Linked DNA regions of Homo sapiens: region 1 is linked to region 2. A link means that fine-mapping ties the variant in region 2 to the expression of a gene that starts in the linked region. Tissue or cell type: neutrophils. Region 2 holds a variant in brackets; the other region holds the start of a gene. All regions are shown on one strand. Distances are between the middles of the regions.

Evidence for each region. PIP is the estimated chance that this variant, and not a neighbour inherited with it, causes the effect.
Region 1: SKP1 starts here. The variant in region 2 is fine-mapped to the expression of SKP1 in neutrophils (BLUEPRINT, PIP 0.95).

The regions. Positions count from the first base shown.
Region 1 is chr5:134,174,113-134,179,112 of GRCh38, forward strand. SKP1 (S-phase kinase associated protein 1) reads right to left here and starts at 2,838. Exons shown (of 6, transcript NM_170679.3): 1 at 2,743-2,838. RefSeq lists enhancers at 2,219-2,498, 2,589-2,838, 3,742-4,256 and a silencer at 2,989-3,068.
Region 2 is chr5:134,234,532-134,242,211 of GRCh38, forward strand. No RefSeq gene overlaps it. Among named protein-coding and RNA genes, the nearest start is that of PPP2CA-DT, 12 kb to the left of the region's middle. RefSeq lists an enhancer at 6,178-6,227. The variant C/CT (reference allele first, on the strand shown) is at 3,366.

The DNA.
Region 1 (5,000 bases), 62 kb before region 2:
ATTGACCACAAAGTTCTAAGAACCTACAATACATAACCCTGTAAAGCACTGTTGTAAGCAGTTATTCACAAGTTAGTCTCCGAGTATTTCTATTAAAATTTTTTCAAAGTATAACTACTAGGAACAGAAGCTTTTAAGGCCTGCCCTACTGAACTCACTATTGGTATAAATTTAATAAAACATACATATTTGTATTTGCTTTCTGCCTGCCTTTCGTCTCCCACTGAATACTGGACTCCATCTGAACAGTTAACTGCCACAATTAACTACATGCGAACCTGAGGAAGGTCAGTCCAAAACAAACAACGCTACTAAATAAGATAGAAATTTTCCCCACAGTGAGTCCTACCTGTGAAGATGAGTTCAGATCCAAAGAGTACATCAGAATATGCTCATTTATGTCTGAGGCAATGCAAGACCATATACAAGAGAATAAAATGATTTAAAGATAAGCAGATGTGAGTACAATTCCCTAAATCTACTTAAAAGCTTCATTTCAGAGCCCTTTTTATCTTTCAGTACTGACTGTCCAGGTGACCAACTTTGAGATCTCTTGGCAAGATCTCCATAATAATAACCTATTACTTGCTCTGAAAACGCATTTATTAATTCAGATTAATTATGAGTCGTTAGGAAAAAGATATAATCTTACATAAAAAGTTAAGCATTTAATTTCAAAGGACTTGAGTTCTGGCAAAAAAAAAAAAAAAGGCATTTAAAATTAAAAGTCCAACAATTTCTTACCATCTTCAAATTCTTTTTTTAAAAAAGAAAACATACAAACAAGGAAAACAACAACAACAAAAAGAATAGCAATACCTGGTACAGATTAATTCAAGGCCTCTTAAAACTCACATACAACTTTTAAAAGGCCCATGCTTCTCAAGTATTCATAATCCGGTGATGTCACTATTAACTTATGGCACCTCTGAAGTTTTCTAGGTGTGTTGTATTACAAATCGCATATATTTTCCCAAAAGTGTATCATTTGGCATTTAAAACATGCATCACACCCATTTTATGTTCAAAGACTTATGACCCATTACATCGGTTAAAATATTCATTCAGCTTCTCTGAGACAATTGTCGCCAACCCCAAAGCAAACAGGTTGTTAGGCAAAGGAAGCAAAAAAGTAAAGCATGTTTTAAAACCAGCCACTGAAATATCCTACTCTCACTCATCCATAGTTGGAGAGAATCAGATTTCACTTTGCGATTCACAAACATGTCTGCTTCTCCATGTTGCTTAGCGCTTGCCAATAATGCAGTTGTCCCTGCTTAATGGAGAAGGATGCAGAGTAGAGGACCCTTCCTGTGACAAGACCACAACAAAAGGTATCTCCAAAAGAAAATATTTTAACCTGAGCCCAATTTTTAATTATAAAACATTTAAACATGTAATTTTTATATTAGATAGTACTGAAATGAACAGTGCAGAATCACAAATCTAACAATGCAGTTGATTAAAATTACTCTAAAAGCAAGACGACCGTTTCATATTTCTTTCAAATAACTCAAGATAAGTGCTTAGTCATAGTCAAGTTTGTGGATTGGGTTACTCTTAAGGGAGTTGAGACCTTACTAAATAGCAGCTGGTCAATCGGTTAATCTGTAATTCGATGCACTTGGTAATACTAAACTCAAAGATAAGTTTTAGTGTTACAGTAGAATAAAGTGCAAAATTTTTAAGTAATAATGGATGAAATATTTATTTGAAATGCTTTCAAAACAATTCCATTCTAAAGAAAGAGGCCTAAAGGCTCCTGCACTTGTAAATAATTCTCCATGGCCAGCATAAAGCGGGTTCTATCACATCATATAGAAAAAAAAACCCCTGCGCTTTAAGTGACCCGAAATTCTGACACTGCTTTTTAGACTGCACAGTGGAGGAGACGGTATTGTTCTATGAAACGGATACATTCTACTGTCACGCTCTAAAGGAAAAATGCATGTCCCTAAAACCCAAACGTGAAGTTTCCATTAAAAGTGAATCAAAGCAGGTAGACGTCCTATTTCTTTAAAAGCCAGATACCTAGAGTTAAGTTATACACAGTTAAGGCTCCTACAAGTCACACCACTCTGACGATGGTATCTGCTCAACGACTCCAAGTCATGGCAAAACAACGCTAAGAAATATTCAGATGGAGCAGGCGGCTATGTGCAGAAAGCCGGCGCCCGCACACGGTTAGCCAGGACCGACCGGTAGCTAGTGACGCCAGACACGGTGGAGAAAGGATGGGAGCCAAGAACCGGGCGGCCTCAGACCACCACCGCAGCTCTCCCTCCCGACCACAACAAAAGCCAGACACCGACACACGCCCACGCTCACGACAGCCAAGGGACCCCCATTCACAACCCCGCCGCCACCCCCGCCCTGGTCCCCGGGACAGCAGGCTTAAGACCAAGAGAGGCCCCCGGCCGCAGCCTGGGCCTTGCAGCCGAGCTCCGCGCCGGCTGACGCTCGGCCGGTGCAGAGAAGGCCCAGCCCGGGGTTCGGCTCACTTATGGAGCGCCGTGAGGACGCCCGGCCAGAGGAGGCCTCGCTGAGTCGGGGGCGGGGCAGGTGAACGGAACCTGGTAGGGTCTCCCGAAGAACAGGGTCGACAACGCGATCCACCGGGCCCGAAAGAAGGCCAGGCCCAGTCACCGCCCGCCGCGGGCAGGCCCAAACCGCAGCGGTGAGGCCAGCCGGCACGCAATCCGGTAGCCACGACCCTTTCCAGTTCAGTGGGCGGCTACTCACGGTGTTCGGTGTTAAGGAGACGGCCGGCGGGAGGCTGACGAGAGCCGGGAGGCGTTAGCGAAGGAAGAGAAAAACCGAAGACGAAGCCACTACAGCGTCGCAGCGCGGCGCGGCGTCTGCTTTATAGGAGAGGGCGCAGGCGCCGAGGACCCCGGGGCGCGCGGCGTCACATCGCGGCTGGGCTGGCCGCCGAGATCGCCTGACGGCAGGCCGAGAACGGCTGGGCGGGCCCAGGCCGGGAGGCGGCAAGGAGCTGCCGGGGGCGGCTGGCCGGGGGATCGGGGGGCCGGAAGAGTTTTCGCCTCTCCCCAGCTCTGAAAGCGCCGCGCTGTCTCGTCAACTGGGTGCCGGACCCCGACTGGCCTAGAAAGGTCTTTCAGGCAGCGGTGCCCTAAGCCGAGTGAAAGACCCCAGTTAAAAAGCCTGGAAAAAACAAAACCGGGCGAGTGTGTGCGTCTCTGTGTGTGTTCCTGGGAACAACAGAACGGGGCGTGTGTGTGTGTGTTCACTCCTGGGGGGGGCTGCGTGTGTGTGTACGCGCGTGTGTTCATTCCTGAGGTGTATGTGCGCGCGCGGGTGTGTGTGTTCATTCCTGGGGTGGGGTGGGGTGGGGGTGGGGCGCTTGTGTGTGTGTGTTTTACTACTGAACTGATACAGCTTGTCCAGCTTCCATTCTCCACGGTAACCCTCCGAGGTGAAATAGTGTTAGCCTTTTCGCCTCTGCAGTGAGGGAACAGGTTCGGAACGGTTAAGTGGCAGAGCTAGGATTTGAACCTTACTCCACAATTAGGTGCTGTTAGCCCTTATTTCCTACTATTGACTTCTAAAGAGGCTTCCATGCCAAACATAGCCATCGTTATAGGGAAACCCCAAGTCTAGAGAGATGGCTCCATCTAGCAGTAGGTACCTACTCCTTCACTAAACATGCTTTGAGCCCGACGTGCGAGGCGTGGTGCTGGGGATTCCGCCGTGAACCAGGCAGCCAGGGCCCGGCCTGGACGTAACTCTTCTCTAGGGTGCTCCCAGGAAGGCTTTGATGAGGTCGATGGAATGAAGCCAGCTGTAAAGGAAAGGGAGTAGTCTGAAAGCCCCACCCTGTTCTGCTCGGGAACATTACTCTCCCCATCCTAGGAGACTGGGCGCCGGGCTCGCCTAGCCAACAGGCACGTGATGATATCCCTGACACCAGGAAGACAAAAGATACTTCCACACAGGGCCCCCTGAAGAAACCAGAGATGTACAGTGCCTCTGGGATGGGACTGGGCAGGAAGGCCAAGCAGCTCCTTGAGTTACCAGGTCTTTGTCTACAAGCCTATCCAGTGTCTGCCAGGTGCCACAGCTGATGACAGAAGATGAAACGCCTGCAGCTCTCAGACATTTTCTTTGCAGCACAGCCCTGCCCTCAGCAGCTCTAGCTTCAGGCCTCCTAGGCAGGGCCCACTGGAGCCCCTTTGCTCCCCGCCTATGGCATAGAAGGTGGTACCTTATTAACTCTCTTTAAGCATTCTAAGCAGGACTGTGCAGTGTCAGGTCACACAGCCCGGGGACCCAGCACAGGGTCTGGCATAAAAGTAGGGATATATTTTTCCAAATATGTCTGAGAACCCCCTTTATTAGAATCACCAAGAAATGTCTGCTTTTAAAACAGATTTTGGGGCCGGGCGTGGAGGCTCACGCCTGTAATCTCAGCACTTTGGGAGGCCGAGGTGGGCAGATCACTTGAACTCAGGAGTTTGAGACCAGCCTGGGCAACATGGTGAAACCCCGTCTCTACAAAAAAACAAAAATTAGGTGGGTGTGGTGGTGTGAGCGTGTAGTCCCAGCTACTCTGGAGGTTAAGGTGGGAGGATCACCTGAGCCCAGGAGGCAGAGGTTGCGGAGAGCCAAGATGGTGTCACTGCACTCCAGCCTGGGTGATAGAGTGAGACCCAGTCTCAAAAAAATAAATAAAACATATTTCATTTGCTTGTATATGGTGCTATATGTATAGATTATCTCAGGAAAGATACACAAGAAATTGGTCACCTCAGAGGAAGGGAACTAGGTCACTGAGGGATGGGTTAGAATAATTTTTCACCTTATACCCCTTTGTATCTTTTGGGTATCAATTCACATGAATGTATTACATATTCAAATTTTTTAACTTTAAAAATAAATTGGCTCAAGAAAAATGCAGATTCCTGGGTCCACTCTCAATCTAATAACTCCCTGGGGGCAGGTTTTTCTGCCCTTTAAACCAGTTCTCCAGGTGATCCTCA
Region 2 (7,680 bases):
GAACAACAGAGTGAGACTTCGTCTCCAAAACAAAAACAAAAAACCAAAAAAACCCAAATTGCCCTGTCTAGACTCAGTGTTCTCTGTGCACATCAGGGAATATCAGTTGCCCTGTTACACTGGTTTGTCTTGCCTTTTTAAATCAAGTAAACAACACAATGTGGACAGCACTCTCTTCCTTTTAGCAACCAGTTGTAGAATAAGGAGAGCTGGGTTCAATCTCCTTATTCACCATCAATCTGAATGACTTTGAACACATCCTCTCCCATCAGTTTCCCCATCCAACAACGCAAAAATTGGTCTATATTAGAGAGTTCTCAATTTAGGATTCATGGGTAGGTTCAGCAGGGGGGTCCATCAACTCTGAAAAAATAATGTATGGAAATTTTGTGTTTTTTAATGGAAATTCTTATTGAGATTATTTATTTGTTTATTTATTTATTTATTTTTGAGACAGAGTCTCGCTCTTGTTGCCCAGGCTGGAATGCATTGGTGTGATCTTGGCTCACTGCAAACTCCGGGTTGCAAACTCACGATGCAAACTCACGGGTTGAAGCGATTCTCCCACCTCAGCCTCCCAAGTAGCCTGGATTACAGGCACCCACCACCACACCCTGCTAATTTTTTAATTTTTAGTAGAGACAGGGTTTCACCATGTTGGCCAGGCTGGTCTTGAACTCCTGACCTCAGGTGATCCACCTGCCTTGGCCTCCCAAAGTGCTGGGATTATAGGCATGAGCCACCGGGCCTGGCCAAGATTATTTTTATTTATTTATTTATTTAAGACAGAGTTTTGCTCTTGTCACCCAGGGTGGAGTGCAGTTGCACAATCTTGGCTCACTGCAACCTCTGCCTCCTGGGTTCAAGCAATTCCTCCACCTCAGCCTCCTGAGTAGCTGGGATTACAGGTGCATACCACCATGCCTGGCTAATTTTTGTATTTTTAGTAGAGACAGGGTTTCACCATCTTGTCCAGGCTTGTCTCGAACTCCTGACCTCAGGTGATCTGCCCACCTCGGCCTCCCAAAGTACTGATATTACAGGCGTGAGCCACCACACCTGGCCTTATTGAGATAATTTTAGATTCACATGCATCTATAAGAAATAATACAGAGAGATCCCAGTTTCTCAGTGGTAACATCTTGCAGTATTATAGTACCATATCACAACTTGGAAATTGATATTGATTCAATTCACCTATCTTATTCAGATTTCCCCAGTTTTACATGCACATAATTGTGTGTGTGTTAGTATGGGTATTTAGTGCTATGCAATTGGGAATTTTCTTTTGCATGTGCTTTTTTTTTTTCTGGGGAAAGTTTCTTAGCTTTCATCAGATTCTCTCAAGCATCAGAGATCCAAAAAGGGGTTTGAGTCCCAGCTCTGGGAAATCTAGAAGACCATTCCTGAACCTCCATAGCTCTCTATTTCAGCAATCAACATTTAATTAGCAATTACCCCACAGCAGGCATAGGAATGCATATGAAGGAGAGGTGGTAGAGAGGGGTGCTGAGAAAGGAGGGCAAGCCCGAAGTTGCATACTACACTGTCTACCGAGCTTATGCTCAGGGGAGACACACAGTCCAACAGGCAAACAAATTATTTATTAAACATGCACAGAAGAGGGATGGCCCTGTTGCTTGGGGAAGCTGGGAAGTATTTCCACAGAAGCTGATGGTTTAGTTACATCTTGGAGGATAATCCAGAATTTTTCAGCTGAGGAGAGAAGAATTAATTGTTAAAATCATTCCCTCCAATCAGATCTATTCTAGATGTTTTGAAGAAAACATAGGAAACCATGCCTACATTTGTTTATTGTACAATGTTAAGGTGTCAGATTCAACTCCCATGTGCTGGTGCTGAGGCCAAGAGATTTTTTCCCCCTGAGTCTGTTTTCCACTATCTTGTCCAAATTGGATACCAGAGCCTGTCTGCTTAGCTTGAGAAAGGCATTTTATCTCTGGTGCCTTGATGACATTAGAGCTTATATTTAAAGCATGAGTGATGAGAAGAGACCAAAGCTGAGACCTTGGCTCTGTCCCATCCATAGAGCTCTCTCCTCCTCTGCATCGAAGGCTCTAGAAGCCAGTCCTGCATTGTCTGGTGGGAGCCCGAGCTGGTCAGAGCCATGAGTAAAACATCTCTGCCCTCCAGTTGACTCTCCAGTCACTGGGATCTCCTATTCTCTCAAGAGCTCATCAGAAATCCTCAGGGGGGCAAGAAATAAACATTTAAAAAAAGAAAAGAAAACCTTGTGGAGGGGCCAGGCGCAGTGGCTCATGCCTGTAACCTCAGCACTTTGGGAGGCCAAGGTGAGCAGATCGCTCAAGCTCAGGAGTTTGAGACAAGCCTGAGCAACATGGCAAAACCCCGTCTCTACTAAAAATCCAAAATTTAGGCAGGCGTGGTGGTGGGCAACTGTTGTCCCAGCTACTTGGGAGGTTGAGGTGTGAGGATTGCTTGAGTCCAGCAGGTGGAGGTTGCAGTGAGCAGAGATGGCGCCACTGCACTCCAGCCTGGGCAACAGAGCAAGACTCTGTCTCAAAAAAAAAGGAAAGAAAAAAAAAGAAACCCTCAGGGGCTTGGGCACTGGGGCTCCTCCATGTCTGTCCTCTCTATATTCGCTGGTTAGCTGCCTTGTGTCGGCTCTGGCTCAGACACCCCAAGGGGGCCTCTTTCTCTGTGTGAATTTCAGGTTCCTCATCAGGCCATTCAGTTCCCAGTACTGTTCTAGGAGAAATCATCTGAGTGTAGCCATTTCTGGGTTTGGGAGACCAAGACTCTACCATTGGGTACCCTTTGAAGAACCCTCTAGAAGCCCGATTCTAGAGGGTACCATTTCTGCACCATTTCTTATCATCCGTGTCCTCATGCAAGCTGTTTATCCCCTTAAATCTTAGTATCTTCATCTGTAACATGGGGATCATAATAGTACTATCCTCATAGGATTATTTTAAGCTTTAAATTAATTTCTGTAAAATTCTTAGCATATAAGTACTCTATCTACATTAGTTATTACTAACATCTATTTTTATAATATGATTATTTTTGGTTATTAAAAAAACCTTCACGGCTGGACGTGGTGGCTCATGCCTGTAATCCCAGCACTTTGGGAGGCCTAGGTTGGCGGATCACTTGAGGTCAGGAGTTCGAGACCAGCCTGGCCAACATGGTGAAACCCCGTCTCTACTAAAAAAAATATGAAAACAACAACAACAAAAAACCTTCAACAAGAAAAAAAAATTAATCTTCACTATAGCAAATTTGTGAACTACTGCAAGTTTAAGGAAGAAACAATCATAACATCCAGAGATAAGTGCTATTATCATTTTGATGTACAGTATTCCCAGCTTAATTTTTTCTTG[C/CT]TTTTTTTTTTTTTCTCTTTTTTTTTTGAGATGGAGTCTTGCTCTGTCGCCCAGGCTGGAGTGCAGTGGCGCTATCTCAGCTCGCTGCAGCCTCTGCCTCTGGGTTTCAAGTGATTCTCCTGCCTCAGGCTCCCAAGTAGCTGAGATTACAGGCACAGGCCACCATGCCTGGCTAATTTTTTTATTTTTGGTAGAAATGGGGCTTCATCATGTTGGCCAGGCTGGTGTCAAACTCCTGACCTCTAGTGATCCACCCCCCTCAGCCTCCCAAAGTGCTGGGATTACAGGTGTGAGCTACCGCTCCTGGCTGTCTTTTTGTTTTTGTTTTTTGTTTGTTTGTTTGTTTTGAGACATCGTCTTGCTCTGTCACCCAGGCTGGAGTGCAATGGCATGTTCACAGCTCACTGTAGCCTTGACCTCCTGGGCTCAAGTGATCTTCCCACCTCTGCCTCCTGAGTAGCTGGGACCACAGGCGCTTGCCGCTGCACCTGGCTAATTTTTGTATTTTTTGTAGAGATGAGGTCTCACTATGTTATCCAGGCTGGTCTCAAACTCCTGGGCTCAAGTGATCCTCCACCTCAGCCTCCCAAAATGCTAGGATTACAGATGTGAGCCACTGTGCCCAGCCCTTCCTTCCCAGCTTTTTTGGTGCATATATATACTTAGGGAAAATTAAAAACTGGGTTCATATTGTGTACTGTGTTATTCAACTGACATATTATGAGCATTTTCTCATATACTTAGATACTATTAGAAAATAATATTTTTAGAGAGTACCTAGTTTTCTAGCACATTGATATAACCCAATTTATATAACTAATCTATTAGTTTGGTATTAGATTATTTAGATTATTTCCTATATTTATATTTATAAATACTGTGGTAAATGTTCTTGTTCATAAATTTTTGTATGCATCTCTGCTTATTTCCTTAAGATAAATGCTTAGAAGTGAATTGACTGACTACACAAAATGCTATACCCTGTTTTTGTTTTTTTAATGTCAGGTATACAGAATTAGATTAACCAGAATGCTTGGTTCATGGTTCACTCTCATAACTGGCATATGGATGGCCTGGTTTTGTTAATTTAGGTGGTAAATTCATTAATAACGTAATCAGTACCTGTGAATTTATAACCCCAAACAAAAGCTAGGACCTTGACAAAACTAATATCTAACCATAGTTCCTCCTGCCCCCACTGCCCCATCTCCTTGCTCCCCACCCCAGACAATCATCCTGAATCCTGTGCTCATTTCCTTGCTTTCCTTTTTATATAGTTTTATTATACCTGTATATATTCCTTTTTTTTTTGAGACAAAGTCTCACTTTATTGTCCAGGCTGGAGTGCAATGGCATGATCTCGGCTCACTGCAACCTCTGCCTCCTGGGTTCCTGCCTCAGCCTTCCCAGTAGCCGGGATTATAGCTGTGTCCCACCACACCTGGCTAACTTGTATTTTTATTTTTATTTATTTATTTTTTTGAGACGGAGTCTCGCTCTGTCACCCAGGCTGGAGTGCAGTGGCATGATCTCAGCTCACTGCAAACTCCACCTCCCAGTTCAAGCGATTCTCCCGCCCCAGCCTCCTGAGTAGCTGGGACTACAGGCGCGCACCAACACATCTGGCTAATTTTTGTATTTTCAGTAGAGACGGGATTTCACCATATTGGCCAGGCTGGTCTTGAACTCCTGACCTCGTCATCCGCCCACCTCGGCCACCCAAAGTGCTGGGATTACAGGCATGAGCCACTGCTCCTGACAACTTTTGTATTTTTAGTAGAGACAGGGTTTCACCGTATTGCCTAGGCTGGTCTCGAACTCCTGACCTCAAGTGATCCACCCCGCCTCGGCCTCCCAAAGTGCTGAGATTACAGGCGTGAGCCACCACGCCTGGCCAATATCTGTACATATTCCTAAAGAATAGTTTTTAAATTGTTCTGAGTTTCATAAAAAAGGATATTATGTTGTATGTAATCTTTCAGGATTTATTTTATTTTTCACTTGATATTTTGCTAAAATCCGTCTGTATCATTGCATTTCACTGTAGTTCATTCATTTTGACTGATGTAAAATAATCCAATACATAAATATACCGCAGTTTATAATCTACTCTCTTACTGATGGGCAACTGCATTGTTTCTAGGATTTAGTTCTTGCGCACGCTGCTATTATGAACATTATTGTCAATGTCTCCTGTTGTACCCGTGCAAGCATTTCTCTAGAAAATCAATTGACGCTTCCCCCAGCCATGGATGAGAGAGCCTCTGGATCCATATCCTCTGGTATTGATGTTTCCATGGTTTGGGATCTATGTTGTCAAGTTGCTTTCCAGGTGGTTAGATCAGTTTGCCTCTCCTCCAGCAATGCAGGAGAATGCCCATTGCCCCAAACTCCTTCCAACACTGGGAATCTTTAAAAGATTTTTGACCATTTCATAGGAGAAAGATAACATCTCCCTGCTGTTTAACTTTGTGGTAAGGTACTGACTGTTTCAGAAGCTGAGCGAGAAGGGATTTGGTTCAGAGAATCGTTCCCAGTCTGATAATTTCAGTGATATTTCTGGAACTGATTACCCAGTGGCTCAGATGCTTTCCCATGTCCTGAAAGAGGTGACACTGTTGGAAGGAGGGAGTGAGGGGGGCCAGGATGGGAAACAAGCCCAATCACCACAGTGCAAGCTTGTCTTCTGGTCCCAGCCCCTGCCAATGTCAGATCACTTTTTCTCCTAATGAAATAGGCATTATCTCCCCCTACTCCCCACCCGAGAAAAGCCAGTATAATTCTACCCTTTGTTATTTGAATTGATAAATTTAAACCTCCTTCCCTCTCTGCAGTAAAAGAACTTTCTATTTTGGGCTCGGTGACATAGCCAACACCAAGCAGAGAGCAGCAGGCTGCAGCATGAGTTAATAGTTTTTCTTCAAGGGAGAGCGAATCCATAAGCAAACAGAAGGCCCTTCCAAACTGTGTCGTCTGCATAGCAACATGCAGCCCATTCGCCTGTCTTTATGCTGACGAATATATTTCTGAAAGGCTGAAAATTGAATACTACCTAATCTTCAGAGGAAGCTGGTGCATTAATTCTGAATTAATCAGGTTTCTTAATTCCAATCAATTTCCCTCCTCCCCACCCTGTGTACCTAACACTGGAATAGGTACTGTCAGGGAAGGGAATTCTGTTTTCAAGTGGATTTCTAGTCACCAAAGATTTAAGGAGTGCCCAAAACATTTTTCCTAAGAATATGACTTTCTCTGCTAGTCTGTTTCCATGCATGAAATCCCCCATATTGGGGTAGAATCCTGGGTCTTACAAGCCCCCAGGCATGCATAGAGGCATGTTCAGTTTTTCTTATGGGAAGTTTTCAATACTCACAAAAGTAGAGATAATAATATAATAAACACCCATTACCTATTGCTTGGCCTCAACGATTAACAATATATGGCAGTCTTGTTTTATCTATACCCCACCCCTCCCTCACCATCATTTTAAAGCAAATTTTAAAGCAAATCATGGTTATCTTCATATTTAAATACTATAAATTCTATAACAAATAAGGACTTTTTTCAATAACCACTATGTCACATATAAAACAATTAAAAATAATTCCTAATATCAACTGGTATCCAGCCAGAAATCAATTTGCCCTGACTTTCCTAAATGTCATTCTGTAATAGTTTATTCTAATCAGAAGCAAAACAATGTCATTTGTATTTGTTATATCTCTTATGTCTTTTTTAGTTTATAACATACATATGTGTGTGTGTATATATATGTGGGCATGTATATATGTGTATGTGTATTATTTTTCTTGTTGTTTTGTTTTTGTTTTTTGAGACAGGATCTCTCCCTGTTGCCCAAGCTAAAGTATAGTGGCACAATTATAGCTCACTGTAGCCTCAAATTCCTGGGCTCAAGCGATCCTCCCACCTCGGCTTCTCTAGTAGCTGGGACTACAGGCACATACTCCCATGCCCAGGTATTTTTTATTTTATTTTTTTCTGGAGACAGGATCTTACTGTGTTGTCCAGGCTGGCCTTGAACTCTTGATTTCAAGTGATCCTCCCACCTTGGCCTCCCAAAGTTCTAGAGATTACAGGCCTGAACCACTGTGCCCAGCCTTAATTTATAACAATTCTTCCTTTTTTTTTTATAGCCCTACTTTTTGGTGTTGTTGAAGATAATGGGTCTTTTAGTTATTATTGCTGTGTAACAAGCCACCCCAAACTTAGTGGCATAAAATAACAACCCATTTATTGTGTTTACAGAGTCTATGGGTCAGGAATTCAGAAAGGACCCAGTTGGGGATGGCTTCTC